Homo sapiens: one gene and its partner. The protein of the gene in region 2 interacts with the protein of the main gene of each other region in a biochemical or structural test. Each region holds a gene or a part of one and is shown on either strand. Other genes may lie near its edges. The genes, in order: BCL3 and N4BP2.

Evidence for each region.
Region 1: the proteins of N4BP2 (region 2) and BCL3 form a complex in vitro, tested with the Homo sapiens proteins (one study listed by BioGRID).

Annotation. Positions count from the first base shown.
Region 1 is NC_000019.10:44,742,694-44,752,948, reverse strand, and holds the start of BCL3 (B-cell lymphoma 3 protein), read right to left. Parts: upstream 4,242-10,255; 5' UTR 4,159-4,241; coding exon 3,903-4,158; intron 1,723-3,902; coding exon 1,569-1,722; intron 1-1,568. UniProt on the Homo sapiens protein: Contributes to the regulation of transcriptional activation of NF-kappa-B target genes. In the cytoplasm, inhibits the nuclear translocation of the NF-kappa-B p50 subunit.
Region 2 is NC_000004.12:40,149,563-40,159,988, reverse strand, and holds the end of N4BP2 (NEDD4-binding protein 2), read right to left. Parts: intron 7,210-10,426; coding exon 7,086-7,209; intron 5,798-7,085; coding exon 5,752-5,797; 3' UTR 1,737-5,751; downstream 1-1,736. UniProt on the Homo sapiens protein: Has 5'-polynucleotide kinase and nicking endonuclease activity. May play a role in DNA repair or recombination.

The DNA of each region.
Region 1 (10,255 bases), on a different chromosome or scaffold from region 2:
GCTACTTCTCTGCAGAAACAGGCCTGTTCATCTCTACCTGTGGTTTCCAGGCCCCAAACTAATTCTCACAGAAGTGCTTTGTATAAATCATGTCATTTCTTCCTCCCAGAGACCCTCACACGCGATGGTTCCTGTTTTTACAGAGAGGGAAACTGAGGCACAGAGGGAGTAGAACGTGGCCACGCTGAGATTCCAACCCAGGTCAATAGAATAATAAGAATCATGATGATCAATTGCAGTGAGTGCTTACTATGTGCTAGGCACAGACCAAACCCTCCCGTGCAGGACTTCTCAGCAGCCTCACAAACATGTTCTTCAGACTGCAGGTGATAAACCATGGGGGTTGTGAAATCAATTTAGGGGATCTTCAAATTAATGTAGTGGGCTGTGACCATGAAACAATGAAGTCGACTAGAATAGAAAATGGCAAAGTAAAGCTGTAAGCTGGGCTCGGTGGCTCACATCTGTAATCTCAGCACTTTGGGAGGCTGAGGTGGGAGGATCACTTAAGCCCAGGAGTTTGAGACCAGTCTGGGCAACATAGCAAGACTGCTGTGTTTCTACAAAAAAAAAATACAAAAATTAGCCAGGTGTGGGGGTAGCGTCTGTGGTCCCAGCTACTCAGGAGGCTGAGGTGGGAGGATCATTTGAGCCCAAGAGATCAAGGCTGCAGTGAGCTATGATTGCACCACTGCACTCCAGCCTGGGTGACAGATCGAGACCCTGTCTCAGAAAAAAAAAAAAGAAAAAGAAAAAAAGAAAAAAAGAAAATGTCACAGTAGAACCCACATAGTAAGGGCGAGTATTGTTTCATTTTGTGCAATTTTAATTTCAAGTTTGTGTGTGTGTGTGTGTGTGTGTGTGTGTGTGCTGGGTTTGAGATAAAATAATAGTAATATTAACAAACACTTACTCAACATTTATGCCAGGTCCAGTGATAGTTTTACATGTATAATTCATATAGTAAGTTAATCAATGAACTGTCTTTCTTGTTTTTAGGTTGTGACAAAATATCTAAAGACCACCGTTCCAAAAATAGTGTTCTAGGGGTGGGCTTGGGGCTCATGCCTGTAATCCCAGCACTTTGGGAGGCCAAGGCGAGTGGATCACTTGAGGTCAGGAGTTTGAGACCAACCTGGCCAACATGGTGAAACCCTGTCTCTACCAAAAAATACAAAAATTAGCCAGGCTTGGCAGTGGGCACCTGTAGTCTCAGCTACTCGGGAGGCTGTGGCATGAGACTCACTTGAACTTGGGGGGCAGAGGTTGCAGTGAGCTGAGATCGTGCCACTGCACTCCAGCCTGGGCGACAGAGTGAGACCCTGTCTCAAAAAAACAAAAACAAAAACCAAACAAAAATAGTGGCCTAGGAGGTAAATGCTCTCAAGGTGCCCATTCTTCAGAGGAGGAAACTGAGGCTCAGAGCAGGGAAGGGCCTTACTCAAGGTCACACAGCCTGTGGTGGAGACCGAGTTCTGACTCAGGTCCACTGGGAGCTGAGTGGCCCTGTGTTATGGACGGCTGGTCTTCCCAACCACCCCTCCCCTTAATAGGGGACTGTCACTCACGTGTCTCCGTCCTCATCTGCACGGGTGGCCATGGCGATGTCAGCAGAAAGGGGGTGTTCCATGGGGCACATCATGGGGTATAGGGGTGTAGGCAGGTTCACCAGAGGAAACGGGGAGCCCATGGCCCGAGTGGGGTACAAAGGCAGTAAGGCTCCTGGACAATGGAGGACAGAGAAGGGACATGGGTGAGGCCACACCCACAGACCCTCAACCCGCCCCCCACTTCTAAAACTTTGCTCCTGTGGTGTCACCTGCCCTTTCTCCTGGGTCCCTTTTGCATCCCATACAGGGTCCTCAGGGCCTAAAACAAACCCCCTTCCACGTCCCTCCTCTGGGCTCTGGCAGCTTCCTCTCCCTCTAGGGCTGGTCACCCTCATTGTCACTTATCTTCTGACCTCAATCTCCAATCAGACAAAGGGTCCCTTAAGAACAGAGGGTGCACCCATCATCACCTAGCAGGGGACCCCAGGGACTGTCTGCAGAGTGATTTTGTGGCTGATGAATTGCTGGGTGCAGGGTGTGGGATAAATGTAGAGTGGGTTTGGGGAGAGTGGAGGCAGAGAGGAGGTGTTACCAGAAGCCTGTTCAAATTGTTTTTGAGATGTAGTCTCGCTCTGTTGCCCAGACTGGAGTGCAGTGGCACGATCTTGCCCCACTGCAACCTCTGCCTCCCAGGTTCAAGCGATTCTCCTGCCTCAACCTCCCAGGTAGCTGGGATTACAGATGCTGACCACCACGCATGGGTAATTTTAGATCAAACTGTTTAAAAAGGGGCCACGGCAGGCCGGGCGCTGTGGCTCATGCCTCTAATACCAATACTTTGGGAGGCCGAGGCGGGCGGATCACCTGAGGTCAGGAGTTCAATACCAGTCTGGGCAACATGGTGAAACCCTGTCTCTACTAAAAATACAAAAATTAGCCAGGTGTGGTGGTGCATGCCTGTAATCCCAGCTACTCGGGAGGCTGAGGCACAAGAATCCCCTGAACTTGGGAGGCGGAGGTTGCAGTGAGCCGAGATCACGCCAATGCACTCCAGCCTGGGCGACAGAGCAAAACAAAACTCTGTCTCAAAAAACAAAAACAAAAACAAACAAAGGCGAGGGGACCATGGCAGCAGGCAAATCCATACCAACCCATCACACAGACGGGGAAAACTGAGGCCTGCTTTCTCACTCTTGGAATAGGAAAGCTGGGAGGCCGTGGCAGAACTCCTGATGCACATAGCTTGAGGCTCTCCAGCTGTCACGCTGATGGGGTGGAGGGTGCAGAAACTACCTAAAGTTTTGGGGCTCTGTAGAACGGCTCTCTGCAGCTTTGGGGGTCAATTGGGGATGGTGACGTGGCCACAGCTGTGGTAGAGGACACCCCTTCTTGAGATCAGGGATGGAGATAGGATGGAGAGAAGAGTGTGTGGTCTTCGTCATCTGCTGATCCTTGTGGGCCCTCTGTTCTTGAACTCCCAAGTTTCCAGGTCCTCGTATCTCCAATACCAGGCCTTGAGGCCTTGAGGCTTTCTGTCTGGAGACCCCTGAAATTTTCATCCTGCCTCTAAATTACCCAAAGTCTCAGAATTACCCAATCTTAGGATCCTCAGTCCCCTGATCCCTTCTGCCCACCTGATCTTGACCTCAAATAGGACCCTGATCACTTGTGGCCCCACATAACTGAGTACCCAGAAACCCGGGTCTCTGTTCTCCTGGGTCCTCAAGACCCCCTGGTATCTGGGTCCCTGGAGCTCTGGTTCATTTCCTTGGATCCTTGTGATCCCAGATATTGGGGTGCTCAGAACCCCATCTCTGTTTTCATAATGCCCATGTCTCCAGATATCTTGGTTCCTGAGATTGTGACATCCTGAGATCCTCAGTATCTGTCTCCTTAGAACCCCAGTCTCTGTTACCCTGACTCCCTTTGATTCTAATAATATCAGGATACAGGGAACCCCAGTTTCTCCAGCCCAGCTCAGCTTCCTCATAACGCTACACATCTGGCTTAAGAGCTTGTACTTTCTTGCCCCTAGGATACCAGGCTCTGTGCCCTGATTCCCTGACACCCCCATATTTGTACCACTGGGCATTGTCCCTGGCCCCCCCCCCCCCACGTCACTCAGCCCCTGGGCTTTGCCCCCCAGGGTCCCCAAATCCCCAGATCCCAAGGCACAGCTTACTGGCTCCCCGATGATCTCATATCTATATCCTTGGAACCTGGGCTTATATCCTCTTGTCCCCCAGGTCCCTGGAGAGACACCGGTTTGTGCCTCAAGCTCTGCCTCCTGGCTCTGGTGACCCTATGCTCTGTGTGGATCCCACCCGGCCCGGACCCTCGGGGGCCACTCACCGGGGTAGTAAAGCGCCTCCGGCCGGGCCAGGCCGTGGGGGGGCCCGGGGACCGCCGGCAGGTCGCAGCCGCCGCGCAGAGGGTCCAGGGGGACGACAAGGCCCGCAGCGCCGCGGGGAGCGGCGGGCTCCGGGGAGGGCGCGCGCAGCGGGCGCTTGCGGAGCGGCAGCGCGGCGCCCGGGAGTCCGGCGGCCTTGGGCCGGGTGCGCAGGTCCACGGGCCCCTCGTCCATGGCCCCCGCGGGGCATCGGGGCATGGGGCCGCCGGGGACGGCGGCCGGAGAGCGGCTGGGCTCGGCTGCACGGGAGGGTGGTTTCGCCGGGCGCCGGGACTTCCCCTGCAGCCGGCTGAACTGAAGGGACTTTTGTCGGCCGGGGCGGTGCCGGCCGCCCGCCTCCCCGCCCCCGGCCCCCCCGGGGCCACCCGTACGCCCCAGGGGTTTCCTGGACCCGCCGCTGCTCCCGCCGCTCTGAGGTGCAGCCTGCCCTGCGCCCCGCCCGCGCCGCGCCCCGCTTGCCCCCTCCCGGCCCGCGGCGCCTGGGGCAGCCAGGCCTCGGCGGGGGAGGGAGAGGAAAGGAGGGGTGGGGGGAGAGGAGGCGGGGTCGGGGGGTGGGGGGGTGTCCCCACCCCTGCTGCCAAGGGCCGCTCTCTCTGCCTCTGTTTTTGTCTTTCTGGCCCTATCTCTCAACATCTCTATCTCTGAGTCTGTAACTGTCTCTCTGGTTCTCCTGTCTGAGTAGGTGTTTCTCTCCGCAACCCCGCGTTTGTCTCTGTGTGCTCTGTTCCGTCTCTGTCTCTCTCTTTTGTCTCTTTGTGTCTGTCACCATCTCTCTGCCTCTCAGTTGCTGTCTGCTTCTCTGTCTCTCAGGAGGCCTTGGCATCTCTGGGACGGGGTTTGGAATCTCGGTTCCCACTTACTCGCTGGGTGACCTTGGCCAAACACTTCCCCTCTCTGAGCCGTTTCCTCCTTAGTGGGAGTGAAGAGACGCACCCGGGGCAGGGACTGGCACTCGGCAGGCGGCCAGGAACGATTCCTCTCCCTCCCCTCTTCCATCTCTGCCACTCCACGTGCCTCATCAGCTGTGGGTCTAAAGGGGCTGGGGGTGGGGTGAGGGTGGGGAGCGCTCCACTGATTGTGTCTCTGCACTCGTTGGGGGCCCTGCCCCCAGCCGGGGCCCGCGGGGCACCGGGGTGGGTGCTCGGAAAATCCTAGGTGCACAGAGAGAAAGAGACATGGAGACAGGCGCAGAGATCTTGAGAGAAAGAGAGATAGCAAGAGACACGGACACCAGGCCAGAGTCAGCGCGACCGAGGCCGGTGCTGCAGGAGCGGGGAGCAGTTTGGCTTCCCCCCGACTTCCCCTCCCACCTCGAGGAGGGGTTGATGGGTGGGGAACAGGCTAGGCGGGTTGGGGGCATGACTCAGGCTGGAGATGGGAGGGAGGGAGGAGGGAGGCGGGACTCTTCCCCGTCTCCTCCCCTCCTCTCCCTCTCCCCGCCCCGGGGTGGGGCCCCGAAGGTCCGGGGCTTTCCCGGATTTCCCTGGGGGCGGGGCAGCCGCTGGGGTTGAGTCCGGGTCACTGAGTCACAGGAGGCGGAGAGGGAGGCTTTGGGGACACAGGGGGCGGGGCATGGGGGCTGCACCCCGGACTTGCCCAGGGGGCACGCGGCGTCTCTCTGGTTCTCTCCCCCGGTCTCCTTCTGTCTTCGAAACTTGCCTGACCTCCCTCTGGTTGTCTCCTGCCCCGCCCTCTGTCTCTGTCTCCCCATCTCTGTTGCTGTCTCTGTGTCCCCTGGGACCTTGAAAGTGGGTATTGGGGCCCCGGGAAGGGACTTTGGCCGGACTCGGGCCCCACCCGAGTGGATCGTTAACCCAGGATGTGAGAAGTGGCTGTGTGGAGAGGCCTCACCCCTTCCCTTCCTTTCGACCTCTCTCTGGATCTCCCTTATCCCCCTTCATGGCGAAACATCCCGAGCACAGACCTGTGTTAATTCCACCTCCACCCCTTGCTCCCGGTGGGACCTCAGACAAGCCATCCCCTGCCTTGAGACTCAGTTTGTTCTTCTGGAAAATGGGACCAATGGCAACCCCTGCCTGCTGGTGTTGTGGGGGCCACAGCAAGGGAAGAGGGGAGGAATTCGGTTGGACAGGCTGGGGGCTGTGTTCCCTGCCCATCCAACCCCACCCCTGGGGACCCTCAGACACAGGAGAGGGGTGTGGAGCACTATCCCAATGCACAGAAAGGAAAGCTGAGGTTTGGAGGGGCGAGGCTTAGGGTGGGGACCCTCAGAGGTAGGGTGGGAAGGACACCCAAGCCTGTCCCACTCCTGGCATCCCAGGGCAGCTGGTGCAGTGGTTCCAACCTAGCAGGACTGTAGAGGGGAGAAGATGTGATGGGTCCGGTGGGAGCTTCGAAGGGCTGGGAGAGACGGTGCTGCTGGAAGAGAGGGTGCTGATGGTTCTCTGAGGTTGGAAGAGGGATAAAAGGGTCAGAAGGAGGAGGATCTGAAGAAGGAAGATAGGTCTGAGAGAGAAGTAGATGGTTTAGTGGGAGGAGGGGGAGAGGATCTGAAGGAGGAGGACAGGGTCTGTTGGAGGAGGTAAGGGTCTGATGGAGGAAATAAGGGTCTGAGGGTGGAGGCGAGGTTTGGAGGGAGGAGGTGAAGGTCTGAGGGAGGAGACAAGGGTCTGAAGGAGGAGATAAGAGTCTGAGGAAGGAGGCGAGGGTTTGAGAGAGGAGGTGAGGGTCTGAAGGAGGAGGTGAGGGTCTGAAGGTGGAGGTGAGGTTCGGGGGGAGGAGATGAGGGGCTAAGGGAGGAGGTGAGGGTCTGAGAGAGGAGACGAGGGTCTGAAGGAGGTGGGGGTCTGAGGGAGGAGGTGAGAGTCTGAAGGAGGAGATAAGCATGTGAGGAAGGAGGTGAGGGTTTGAGAGAGGAGGTGAGGGTCTAAAGGAGGAGGTAAGGGTCTGAAGGTGGAGGTGAGGTTTGGAGGGAGGAGGTGAGGGTCTGAGAGGAGGTGAGGCTCTGAAGGAGGAGGTGGGGGTCTGAGGGAGGAGGTGAGGGTCTGAAGGAGGAGATAAGCATCTGAGGAAGGAGGTGAGGGTTTGAGAGAATAGGTGAGGGTTTGAAGGAGGAGGTAAGGGTCTGAGGGAGGAGGTGAGGGTCTGAAGGAGGAAGTGAGGGTCTGAGTGAGGAGGTGAGGGTCTGAGGGGAGGGGAGAGTATCTGAGGGAGAGGGCACAGTCTGAGGAAGTCTGAGAAGCACTAAGTGAGGGGACGCAGCTCTGAGGGAGGAGGAGAGAGTTGGAGGGGAAAGAAGGGTCTGAGGAAAGAAGATTTGGAGAGAGTCTGAGGGTAGAGGCCAGATCTGAGGGAGAAGAAAGAGGCTCAGGGGAAAAGATCTGAGGGTCCGAGGGTGGAAGGCATGGACTAGGGGAGGAGGAGCTGGTGGGGTGGAGGGGTGGAGAGGCGTGCCTCCGGAGCCAGCAGGGACCAAGGGGAGGGAAGGGAAGGGAGGCTGGGAGGCAGCCCCGCCCTGCAGCTGTCTCTAATTTCCCAGAATCTTCTGCTCTCAGGAAAGTCCCAGCTCCCACAGCAGCCTCCCTCCAATGTCGGGAACGGAGGATGCGGAACCAGGATGGCCACCCCCACCCTCCCCCGGCTCCTTGCACCCCAGGCGGAAAGGACTAGGGTCTCCTTTCTCTGGGCCTTGGCCTCTGGAGGGCCCCCACCCGCAGGGGCAGCCCCTGGATGAGTCTTAGAAACTTCCCAGAGGAGGCCAGGAAGTTCTGCTTGGTGTCTAACCACTTTCCCCTCATGCAGGCCGCCCTTTGTACCTGTTCAGATCTCCTCCCCAGCTGCTGTTTCTTTTTCCCCAACCCATCCTGGGGGAGGAAAGGCCAGGAATTTACCTGCTCAAAGTCCTGAGAGGGAAACGAAATTCCATCTGGAAGTCTGTAGGCTTGAGGCAGCTTTCTTGCTCTCAGGGGCCTCAATTTCCCTTTCTAAGAGGAGAGAGTAGGGCTGGTCAGGGCCTAAGTTCCCATCTGGCTCAATTACTGGGTCTTGTCCTGCTTTTTTTTTGAGACAAGATCTGGCTCTGTCTCCCAGGCTGAAGTGCAGTGGTGAGATCATAGCTCACTGTAGCCTTGAACTCCTGGACTCAAATGATCCTCCTGCCTCAACCTCCCAAGTAGGTGGGACTACAGGCATGTGCCGCAATGACTGGCTAATAAAAAAAACAATTTGTAGACTCAGGGGGTCTCACTGTGTTGCCCAGGGTGTTCTCGAACTCCTGGGCTCAAGCGAACCTCCCTCCTCGGTCTCCCAAAGTGCTGGGATTACAGGCGTGAGCCACCGCATCTGGCTTCCTTGTCCTACTTTGTTTTGAATTGAGGCCTGGGTCCAAGTCCTGTCTCCTGATCGTTAGCTTTGTGACTTCCGGGCAGTTACTTAACCTCGTGGAGCCTCAGCTTCCTCATCTGTAGAGTGGATCACATCAAGAAAATATGACTCTGTCCCATGGGGTCTGATGTATAGAAGGCTCTTGATGCAATTTAGCTGCTATTAGTTTTATAATAATAATAATAATAATAATAATAATAATAATAATATAACATTATATATTATTATTGTCCTCATCAAATATCCTGTGTTTTCAATAGCAGGACCTGCTTCATTGGGGAAAATAGAATTCAACATGCTGGGCTTAGAGACATAGTTTTGAGCCCTGGCTCGTCCATGTGCTAGTTATGTGACCTTAGGCAGGTGGCTTTCCCTCTCTGTGCCTTCCTTGTGACTTTATTATTTTTTAATTTTTATTTTTTGAGATGGAGTCTCGCTCTGTCGCTCAGGCTGGAGTGCAGTGCCATGATCTCGGCTCACTGCAATCTCCAATCCCTGGTTCAAGCAATTCTCCTGCCTCAGCTTCCCAAGTAGCTGGGATTACAGGCGTCCGCCACCATGCCCGGCTAATTTTTGTATGTTTAGTGGAGACTGGGTTTCACCATGTTGGCCAAGCTGTTCTCAACCTCCTGACCTCAAGTGATCCACCTGCCTTGGCCTCCCAAAATGCTGAGATTACAGGTATAAACCACCATGCCCAGCCCCTTGTGACTTTAATAGTGGCGAATGGGGCCGGGCATGGAGTGTGCTCCTGTAGTCCCAGCACTTTGGGAGGCCAAGGTAGAAGGAAGAATCCCTTGAAACCAGGAGTTCAAGACCAGTCTGGGCAACAAGGGGACACCCTGTCTCTACAGATTTTTTTTTTTTTGAGACAGAGTTTCCGTCTTGTTGACCCAGCTGGAGTGCAATGGCGCAATCTCGGCTCACTGCAACCTCCACCTCCTGGGTTCAAGCGATTCTTCTGCCTTAGCTTCCTGAGTAGCTGGGACTACAGGCCCGTGCCACCATGCCCAGCTAATTTTTGTATTTTTAGTAGAGACGAGGTTTCACCATATTGGCTGGACTGGTCTCGAACTCCTGGCTTTGTGATCCGCCTGCCTCGGCCTCCCAAAGTGCTGGGATTACAGGTGTGAGCCACCACACCAGGCTTACACAAAATTTTTAAAAATTAGCTGGGCTCAGGAGGCACCTGTAGTCCTAGCTACTTGGGAGGGTAAGGTGGGAGGATTGCTTTAGGTGTAAGGCTGCAGTGAGCTATGATCATGCCACTGAACTCCAGCCTGGGTGACAGAGTGAGACTCTGTCTCAAAATAATGGTAATAATAATAATAACAGGATGATAACAGATCCTGTTTCACAGGCTTACTGAGCAGATTAAATAAGAAAAGTGTGTGGAATAAATGAATGAATAATGTTCATTTCTGTCTCCACGCTGCTGGCCTTAACCCTTACCCTATCCAGCAGACCAGGGCCTCCTTCTCACCCTTTTCTACTCACAGAGGAGACAAGACAGAAACATTCACTCCGGGCTGAGTTGCAACTAAGAATTGGCCCACTTAATCCTCTTAACACCTTGTAAGGAAAATTCAGCTAAAAACCCAATTTTATAGAGGAGGAAACAGGCACAGAGAAGTGAACTCACTGCCCGGGTCACACGGTGAGGAACTGGGGAGAGCTGAGATTTCAAGCCAGGTCCCTGTGACCCCAGCACGCTTCTGACCTGGGAGAAGTGGCCATGAGTCTCGGAGACTGCAGGTGTGCCCTTCCAGCTTGATTCTAGGCCCCTTCTCCCTGGGAAGAAATGGTTTAGATGGGGAAACTGAGGCATGGAGAGGGAAAGTCATATGTCCGAGGACACCCATGGAGATTCGCACCCTGGAACTCTTCTCTGCTGCCTCCTGGTATGGGGAGGGTCCGTGCGTGGAGAGAGGATGGCATTGCAGCAGGAGGG
Region 2 (10,426 bases):
AATGAGTCAGGCATGGTGGTGGGTGCCTGTAATCACAGCTACTTGGGAGACTGCACCACTGCACTCCAGCCTGGGTGACAGAGTGAGAATCCATCTCAAAAAAAAAACAACAACAACTGTGATTTCCTTTTTTTGATTCCTAACACTCAGAAGTCATCAATGCATCGAGAACTAATTTTCACATTATTTGCATATAATGATAAAAAATGATGTGGCAGAGACTGCTATTCATTCTCCTAATATCCATTCTCTTTCCTCCAAGAGAATACCAAATTTCAGCAGAACATGGCAGTCTGAAATAGAAAATTTCCCAGCCTCCCTCGCAGCTAGATATGACATGACTAGGTTCTGGTCAATAGGACGTAAGTAGAAGTGTCCTACGGCAGGTTCCAAAAACCATCTTTAAGACCACTTGGCACTTGCCTTTTGCTCCCTTTTTCTTTGTCTTTCCTCCAGCAGAATACAGATGTGACAGTTAGAGATGTAGCCACCCACCCTGGCCTAGGAAAATGAGGGCCATTATCTTGGGTATGGCAGAATGATGAACTTTCCTAGATTCCCAAAAGCGTCAAGTAAAGCAGTCCTGGAATTTTTATCCCTGGGATTTTATAGGAAGAAAGAAATAAACTTTTACCTTTTGCCATTAGTATTTTGGGTTTTTCCAAAGTACCAGCTTTCGTATAAAGGAAGAAGGCAGAATCATAAATGGTAGGTTTTCAAAGACATATACTGTGGAGCCACAACTCTCTGGAGAGAACAGTAGACTATTATCTCTTTATAAGTAACTATTCTCTCTTAGGACAAATGCAGCTGCTCCATATTAGGAGTCAGAGAATGTGGTTCAAGTTATACCTCTGACATTAAACAGCAAACCAGTTAACTTCTCTAAGTCTATGTGGCTTTATTCATTAAATTGGGATAGCACTACCTATGTAATAAAATTCTCTTGAGATTTAAAATATAACATATACGAGAGTATCCCATAGTATAAGTCACTATATACATAGGAGTTGATAAGAATAATTATAATTCTGGATAAAAGCTCTATCGCATTTACCCTGTAACCCCAGTAACGAGTGCTCTAAATATTTGTTAGATAAATGTTTTTAAGTCCTTGCAAAATGAGTGAATTCTGCTTTGGACTCGAATATAAAGTTCCAAGGTCATTAATATTATTTAAAGCATTACTTGAGTCTCTAAGAGATTCTTTTTTTTTTTGAGATGGTCTCACTCTGTTGCCCAGGCTGGAGCTCAGTGGCACAATCTCGCCTCATCGCAACCTCCACCTCCCAGGCTCAAGCAGTTCTCATGCCTGGGATTACAGGTGTATGCCACCATGCCTGGCTAATTTTTTGTAGAGACAGAGTTTCACCATGTTGGCCAGGCTGGTCTCAAACTCCTGACCTCAAGCAACCTGCCCGTCTCAGCCTCCTAAAGTGCTGGGATTACAAGCATAAGCCACCGCGTCTGGCCTCTAAGAGATATAATTCTTAATTTTGATATCAGTTAAAAGATACAGGGTGTGAGGAGAGAAACCATAGCCAATCCATTTATCTGGTTCAAAAGTAGACTCTTATTTGCTACAGAAAACGTAAACCAGAAGAAAAGTTTTGGTACAGAAATAAAATTTTCATGACACTTTCCCCCTGAAATTACAAAGTTAGACATGAAAATATTTTAAAATATTTAACCCACTAACTCTAATACATCAAATGAAGGATTTCCTCACACTGGACTGTGGCTAAAGTATTTTATTAAATTAAGTATGTAATTTGCAAATGGCTTCATAAGAAAATTTAAAAGCAAATTTATAAAACATTTTCAATTTAAAAAGTACAGAGTTAACAGCAAAATTACATTTTCTATACAGTACAAATAAAAACATTTTTCTGATATACTGTCTGAAAATTTTATAATATATTCTCCAACTGATAGCTGCAATATTGTATTTTAATGAGAAGCCTCACAGTTAACTCAATCATTTATTAATAATAAGTTCATCATTGGACCATAAAAGTCAATTGCTCAACTTTAAGGAAAATAATGAACTTTGTCATCATATAATATGAAGTTATAAACGGCTCTTCAGGATGTAGATGTGTTCTAGCCTTGTTTCTCTATTAAATTCTGTAAAGAAGCATTAAGTAATACTGTAAACTTGAATTACATTTTAAAAATAAGCACCATGAACATACATTCTACATAAACTTATTTTACCTTTTAAATGACACCTTTTGGCCACATAAACATTTAAATCTGTTTTCTTTACATGTAAATAAAAATTGAGCAATATTTAACTACTACACCGAAAAATTACCAAACTTCACCTCATTGCACAATGGAAAAGCACTTAGAAAAAGCACTTGGAAAAAACAGCACACGTTATTTTTGTCTTTTTTATACATTTCGTCATTTTCTTAAATTGAGAGCAGTTAAAACATTGTCAGAGCAATTTCCTGAGTTTCCAAAGTTTCCAATTTCCAGCTCAGAAATAACCGATCTCAATATTATACATGTCTACTTTCTAAGCATACAAAACACTTGAATTCAAAAAGAAAAGACCTAAATAAAGGATGGAAACCATCCAGAAGAGCAGTATAGCTTTTCTTCTCAAAATATACTACTCAAGAGGATTTAAAGTCAAAATTTCTGCTATATAATATGTCCTATATTTAAAGGCCATAAAGTTGCAAATAGTATGGAAATACTAACCAATTGAAGAAACTGCACATTAAAAATAATGTAGAGAAATATGAAGAGCCAATAAACGTAAAAAAAAAAACACTTCCATTTCTCACATTGGAATAAAGAGATGGACAGACTGAAAATACTGTTAAGTGTCTAATATCTCCCTGGTCCAACTGGACACCCTCTGGGGTTTCCACATTAGTCCTCTTTTTCCATCTGGGAGATAATGGTAAGAGACTACTGAATGAATATAATTATTACTGAAACCTTCCATACTACAGAAGTGCTGTACTTTTAAAATATTAAGTTTACAAAGAATCATTCTAATGAGTCATGTATTAGCACAAATATACAGGTTGAGTGAGTATCCCCTACTCAAAATGCTTAGGACCAGAAGTGTTTTGGATTGCTGGGGTTTGGGGGGATATTTTAGAACATGTGCATTATATTTACTTGTTGAGTATCGCTAACCTACAAATGTAAAATGCTCTGTGAGTATTTCCTTTGAGCATCATGTCTGTGCTCGAAAAATTTCAGATTTTGAAGCATTTCAGATTTTGAATTTTCTCATTAGGGATACTCAACCTACACCAATACATGAAAATTTTTATAATCTCCAAACTATCTTTGACATACAGGATTTAGAAATGGGTAATAGAGAAAACTTTTAAAATCCCCAAACTATCTTTACTGCGGGCATACAGGATTTAGAAATGGGCAAAAAAAAGAAAGGAGGGATTACAAACTTTTCTTTCAAAATTATGTGTTGCTTAAACTATGCTAGATAGTGGGGTGGGAGGCAATTTGGAATTAAGCAGCTTCATAAAAATACATATGATGCTCAAACTTTGCCTGTATATTTATCAACAATGATTAAGATATACTATTTGATTTATCAAAATAAGGCATAATATTAACATTGATATAGTAAACAAGTAAACAATATAGCTTTTTTCATTTGACTTCTGCCCACGGAATACCACACCTCTACTTCTGACTGCTCCTTCATTAATCATAATTATAATATTGAAATAAGTCTAGCTGAAGTGCCGAAAAGTGATGATTTTTAAAACTAGGTAAGGAAATATAAAAACACAGAAAGTGAGTATGCAGCTGCACACATTCCAATTAACTCCACATTTTAGCACTGTTTTTCATACCCTTAAATCATACTAATGTATACATAGGAATATCTTATTTCATTAACAATTATAGTTTCATAGTAAGTTGTTTAAAGGAACTGCTTTATTTTTAATGTTTATTTTTAATGTATAGAACTGTTCTAGAGATTACAAAAGTGTGCTAAACTGTTGGCATTCTTTAAATAAATTATTACAAACATAAGTGTGAATAATACTTCAATACCAGTCACTAACCATTTCTAAATAATAAACATGTATTTTCATTTTTATGGAACTAAAATTCAATGATAAGCCTCCTTATTTTAAAAGCATGCAATCATGATATATAAAAAAAATGTTTTGGGGTTTTATTTTCATTGAAATGTCTGCTCTTTTGGAAAACCATTCTGTACTTTAGGATTCTTTTGGTACCAGCTCAATCCTATAATTTCTGATCCAAATTTTTTTTTAAGCTTAACAAAAAGCAACAAAACTATTTGTTAAAATTATGTATGTTGAAAATATTCTCCATCTCCAAAGGCAAATTTAAGCCATTGTCTCATATTGGAAAATTATACCTTACCACATTATAACCTCCTTTACACAGGTTTAACTTGCATACTAACAGAATTTATTAGCTAACCAAACAACAGAAGTTAATGACAGCTTCCTTTGAGAAAGTTGGCTCTTTTTCAAAATAAAAGTGAAAATATTTTAAATTGTAAGGATTCTTCTTATGATTATAACCAAAATATTTTCTCTTTTTTTTCTTTTTTTTTTTTGGAGACGGAGTCTTGCTCTGTCACCCAGGCTGAGTGCAGTGGTGTGATCTCGATCTCGGGTCACTGCAACCTCCACCTCCCAGGTTTAAGCGGTTCTCCTGCCTCAGCCTCCCAAGTAGCTGGGATTACAGGCACACGCCACCACACCCAGCTAATTTTTGTATTTTTAATAGAGACGGGGATTCACCATGTTGGCCAGGCTGGTCTTGAACTTCTGACCTCAGGCGATCCACCTACCTCGGCCTCCCAAAGTGCTGGGATTACAGGCGTGGGCCACCACACCAGGCCAATTATAAACAAAATATTTTCTATATTTGTTTAATAGAATTTTAACCTACTGCAGTTTTAAAATTACATGCCTCAAAAATAAAATATAAGTATTTAGTACTGTCTGAAATACGACTTATACAGACAGTTCTAGAAGCATTTCGATAAGGCAGCAACATCTGGAAGATATTTAACCATTTCTTTTTCTCTGAAAACCTTTCTGTCTATAGAAAGTATAAAATTACAATATAATCTCAGACCCAACTTTCTTTCCATAAAATGCACACAGAAGAACAGAACAAAAGGTAAAAGATCAAGGTCATATACAAAGCAGAAGAAAGGGCAAAAGCATGTCTTCCTTCCTGTAGGATATGGCAAAATAAAAGCATTTTATGTGTTTAGTTTTGAAAATAAAAAATATTCAAGTGTTTTTGTTAGATCTCCTTTTTTTCTTTACTACCACTACTATGTCCTTTTTCCTCTTTTAATACCACCCTTTGGGGGGCATGAATCAGGTCTCAAAGCACTTTAAATACCTCTCACAAAAGACTTTTAGGACATTACTAAATGTCATACAACAATTAATACAAAGGTAACCTTTTCTGAGAAACAATCAGAGCATTTTAAACTTTAAAACTGTAGCTGATAATTTTCTTACATATTTTGTAATCAATAAAATTTCTCTGTAATATCTTTAACAGGTAACATTTGCATTTGATTCAGTAAAAAATCAAACCTCACTTGCATTTTGAAAAACATCATAATTTTTTTGTTTCATAATTGAATATTATTTATAATAAAACACATCTTTAGGGTAGAATTGACTGAATTACTGCAAATAAAAGTAATTTTAACCTACAAACCTTCATACTTCTAATTCAAGGATGTTTATTTTACTTTAGCATGACTTTCAAGCACCCTGGTTTAATTTCAGAGAACCTGCAGAAATGAGAAAAGAGTTATTTTAAAGATGAAAATTTCAAATTAGCTAAGGAATATACCTTGTAATCAATTCCAAGTACCTACGCTTAATATAATATTTACTACCAAAGTATTGACCCTTATTAAGTCAATATCCAAGACCAACATCTAGGTTTGTGTTCCTTTTATCTACGGTCAAAACAAATACAATCTTAAAGCTGGAGGTTGCTCTTGACTTAGTATAACTTAAGATTTGTCAAAACCTGTGAGGCCTGAATTTTACCTTTATGAAAAAGAGTATGCTGTAGGAAGAATAAAGTCCTTGGTGCATCATGAAAGCACCAAGAAGAAATCTCTGATATATCAGGTAAGTCTGATTAATCTGGCCATGCAATGCTTTCAACTCTATCCGGAGAGAATTTAAAGGAAGACTAGTCTCTAAAATAGATAATTAATCTCAACATAATGTTCTGGTCTAACTACTCCTTTTATAAAAATAACCCTGATGTCACCTGTTTTATGCTCATAACTTATGCTATCATTTTCGATAATGTAGCCAAATAACATCTTATTACATGGCATAAAATAAATATGCTACACTGAAATTGGTGGGTAGGAGTTAATGATACACATCTGCAGGAAATCTATCCATCAACAGATATTTCATCTTTGACTTTCTTGTCATTTTCTGTTATTAAATAATTATCACTTAATGAAAAAGAACATTTCATGTTTGTCAACACAGGTCATTAATGGCATTTAACTTATGAAAACACAAATAAATTCATATTAACTGAACATTTCTGCTAAAGTTTAAACGTACCTAAATTATAACTATATTTCAATAGAAGCCACCCAATTCCATCCAAAATCCACAAATACTGATTTCCTTTCAAAAGAATAATAGCAAATCTTAAAGTATGATACATATTACCTAATTATTTTGCATATTATCAAAGAAACAAATATATTTACTTTCTTTTAGAACTTTAAATTTATGATAGAAAGTTTTATCAGATGATTATTGGCAACAAACACATTTTTCCTTATTTCTGGTTTACCAGACAACATAAATCCAGCAGGGAAAGTTATATCATAATTTAAGCATGAATCTGTGGCTGAAATCAGATGATTAAATTTAGTTAACTATTTTAACAGATTGTTCTGAGTACGCTATTAGTGTTTATTTACCTAGCTATATTAGGGCTATTGCTATTATCAATAACAGAAATCTATACTCACAGAAATATCTGATAAAGATCTATATGGGCAGTTGCCATTATTAATAACAGAAATCTACACTCACCTGAAGCTATGGCTTATGAGGTACTTAATGACAGCTGGTTTGATGCGAGCAACTCCTCCCTGGCTGTGGTTTCCTCTCCCCGTAATCACAGACAAATAGGGCTTCCCACCGTTCTGCTTAAATTCTGTTACAACAGAAATCAGGGGAGTTAAAATTCATTTATCTTACATTCTCAATAGAAAACGTAAACCTTAGCTACTCAAGCACATGAAATTGTTTTCATGAGGATTTTGGGGTTTGCCATCTCAAAACTGTAATAGTAAGACAGATTTGCTATCTCAAAAAGCCCCCAAATTAATGTTTTAAGATGTATGTTTTAAAACACATAGCCTCATTGTAATCTATCCATCAAAAGATTTGGTGGGACTTCTTCCTTTATGGGGGAAGAGATTTCTGTGCACTACCAGAAGTTCTCCCTGAAATAATGATAATGGCAATAATACCATTAATGATACCTAACAATTACTATACAAAAGGAGTCAAGTACTGCTTTAAGTGGCTTATATTTATTAACTAAGAATCTTCACAACAACCCTGTTAATTAAATATTCTAAAGCCATCAAGCTTTGTTCTGAATCATAGCTCTGCCACTAAATGACTGTGTGACCATGGACAAGTTACTTAGCTTCTTTTGTGCCTATTTTCTCATCAGGAAAAAGGGATAATGATAGCAACTAGTTTATAGATTATCTTCCAGTAATAGCTATTAGCAAATCCACTAGTCACAGCTGGATTGCAGTCTTACTATTAAAGATAATCAATTGTTAACAAACTTTTCCTGATAGATAGTTCTTAAAACATCAAAGGAGTCTGAGCCTCCTAAAATACTGAAGTTCCATTTTGGAAATGACCTTGTGAAAATCAAGGATATAAATCCTGAAAACTAATAAAAGCTGTAGCAGAATAACAAAAACAACAAAAAAACTATTAATGAGATGAATTAATAAATTTAAAACACACAAAATATAAACATTCCACGGTCTGCTTATTAAATTGTCCTAATACTCCTAATAGAATACAAACAAATGGTTTTTCAAGTATCATATCTCCAAGATGATATTCAGCCTGGAATTTTAAAAGAATATGTTGCTCTTGCATTTCTAATTCCTTGTCTATGATCTCCATCTCTAATCCACATCCATTACTTCAAGCAATATGTTGCTCAAAATTCAACTGAGTGCTAGCTTCACAAAGGTATTCACAGTGCACAAAATTCTAGGTATATAGTGTAAAACCTTTTTACGAACTTTTTACAAAGTTTTTGCACTATATACCTATAATTTTGGGCACTGTTCTTTACATATGTTATATTACGCATAAAAGTTTTACATTGGCCAGGGACAGTGGCTCATGCCTGTAATCTCAGCACTTTGGGAGGCTAAGGAAGGTGGACCACTTGAGCTCAGGAGTTCAAGACCAGCCTGGGCAACACGGCAAAACCCCATCTCTACTGAAAATACAAAAATTAGCAGGGCATGGCGAGGCGCACCTGTAGTCCCAGCTACTTGGGAAGCTGAGGTAGGAGGATGGGTTGCACCTGGGAGGTGGAGGGTGCAGTGAACCAAGGTCACAACCAACTGCCAGCCTGGGCAACAGAGCCAGACTCCCATCTCAAAAAGAAAAAGTTTACTTACAAAAAAAGCCCAACTAAATCTCTAATCATAACTCACACTCTTCACTATGGCTCCCCTTATCACTTAGGTCAGTCATTTATACGATTATCACCTGCTAATAGTTCACTTATTGCTCTGAAAATATTCTCTAGTTGATTCACATGCCTCAAGTAAGAGTTCAAAGGATGTTTGTTGCATGAAGTAATGTATATGTTTCGTTTCCCAAATACAGGCTGTTCTTGCTGTTTAACGCCTTAGAAAGGACTGTTTAACTCATTTTTCAGCACACTCCAGATACTTCAACTGCAAATATTTCAGTACATACCTCATAAAAGATAAGGACTCCTTTAAAAAGCATAACTACAATGGCACCATCATATCTTATAAAATTAATAAAAGTCCCTTAATATCATTAGTTTCCAAAATTTCCCCCAATTATCTCAAAAATATGTTTTTACAGTAATTTGTTGGCATCAAGATTGAAATAAGTCTATACATTCTATTTGATTGATATATTTCTTAAGTAACAAGGTTTCCCCTCCCCTGGTGTTTTTCTTTACAATTTATTGAAAAAAATTGGATCATTTATCCTAGACTTCCTCTTTTTTTTTTTTCCCCCTGAGACAGAGTCTCACTCTGTTGCCCAGGTTGAAGTGCAGTGGGATGATCTCGGTTCACTGCAGCCTCTGACTCCTGGGTTCAAGCGATTCTTCTGCCTCAGTTTCCAGAGTGGCTGGGATTACAGGCCTGAGACATCATGCCCAGCTAATATTTTTGTATATTATTAGTGGAGACGTGGTTTCACCATGTTGGCCAGGCTGGTCTCAAACTCCTGACCTCAAGTGATCTGACTGCCTCGGCCTTCCAAAGTGCTGGAATTACAGGCATGAGCCATCACACCCAGCCTATCCTAGATTTTCACAATCTGAATTTTGCTGACTGTATCCCCATGGTGTTGTTTAACATGTTCCTCTGTCCCCTGTAAATCCCTATAAAATGGTAGTCAGTTCTAAAGGTTTGATCTGCTCCTAGTTTGATTTGGAGGCAAAAATGATTCGTACGTAGCAGTGTATATTTCAACCAGAAGGGACATAAGGTCCAGATGTCTCTCTTTTTTAAAAAATTCATCTCCGATTTTAACACTCCTTAATCTTATGTCAAAAGGCAATGCAGGTCAGAGCCACAAATCTTCCACTGGATTCATTTCTATTCAACAATACTGCCACCTGGTGGTGACTGACAGTAACTACAGACTACCACAGGTGGCAGCATGCACTAGAGATGGGCCTTGGCTTCCAGAAAAGATCTGCATCTTGGATCTTGACCAAGTATTACCTTGGGCAAATTACTTAGCTCTTTTTTCTTTTCTTTCTTTTTTTTTTTTTTTTCTTTTTGAGATGGAGTCTCGCTCTGTCACCCAGGCTGGAGTGCAGTGGCTCGATCTCGGCTCATTGCAAGCTTCGCCTCCCTGGTTCACACCATTCTCCTGCCTCAGCCTCCCAAGTAGCTGGGACTACAGGTGCCCGCCACCATGCCCAGCTAATTTTTTTTTGTATTTTTAGTAGAGACGGGGTTTCACTGTGTTAGCCAGGATGGTCTTGATCTCCTGACCTCGTGATCCGCCAGCCTCGGCCTCCCAAAGTGCTGGGATTACAGGCATGAGCCACTGAGCCTGGCCTCTTTTTCTCTTCTTACAATTTTTTTAATTGAGATAAAATTAACATAAAA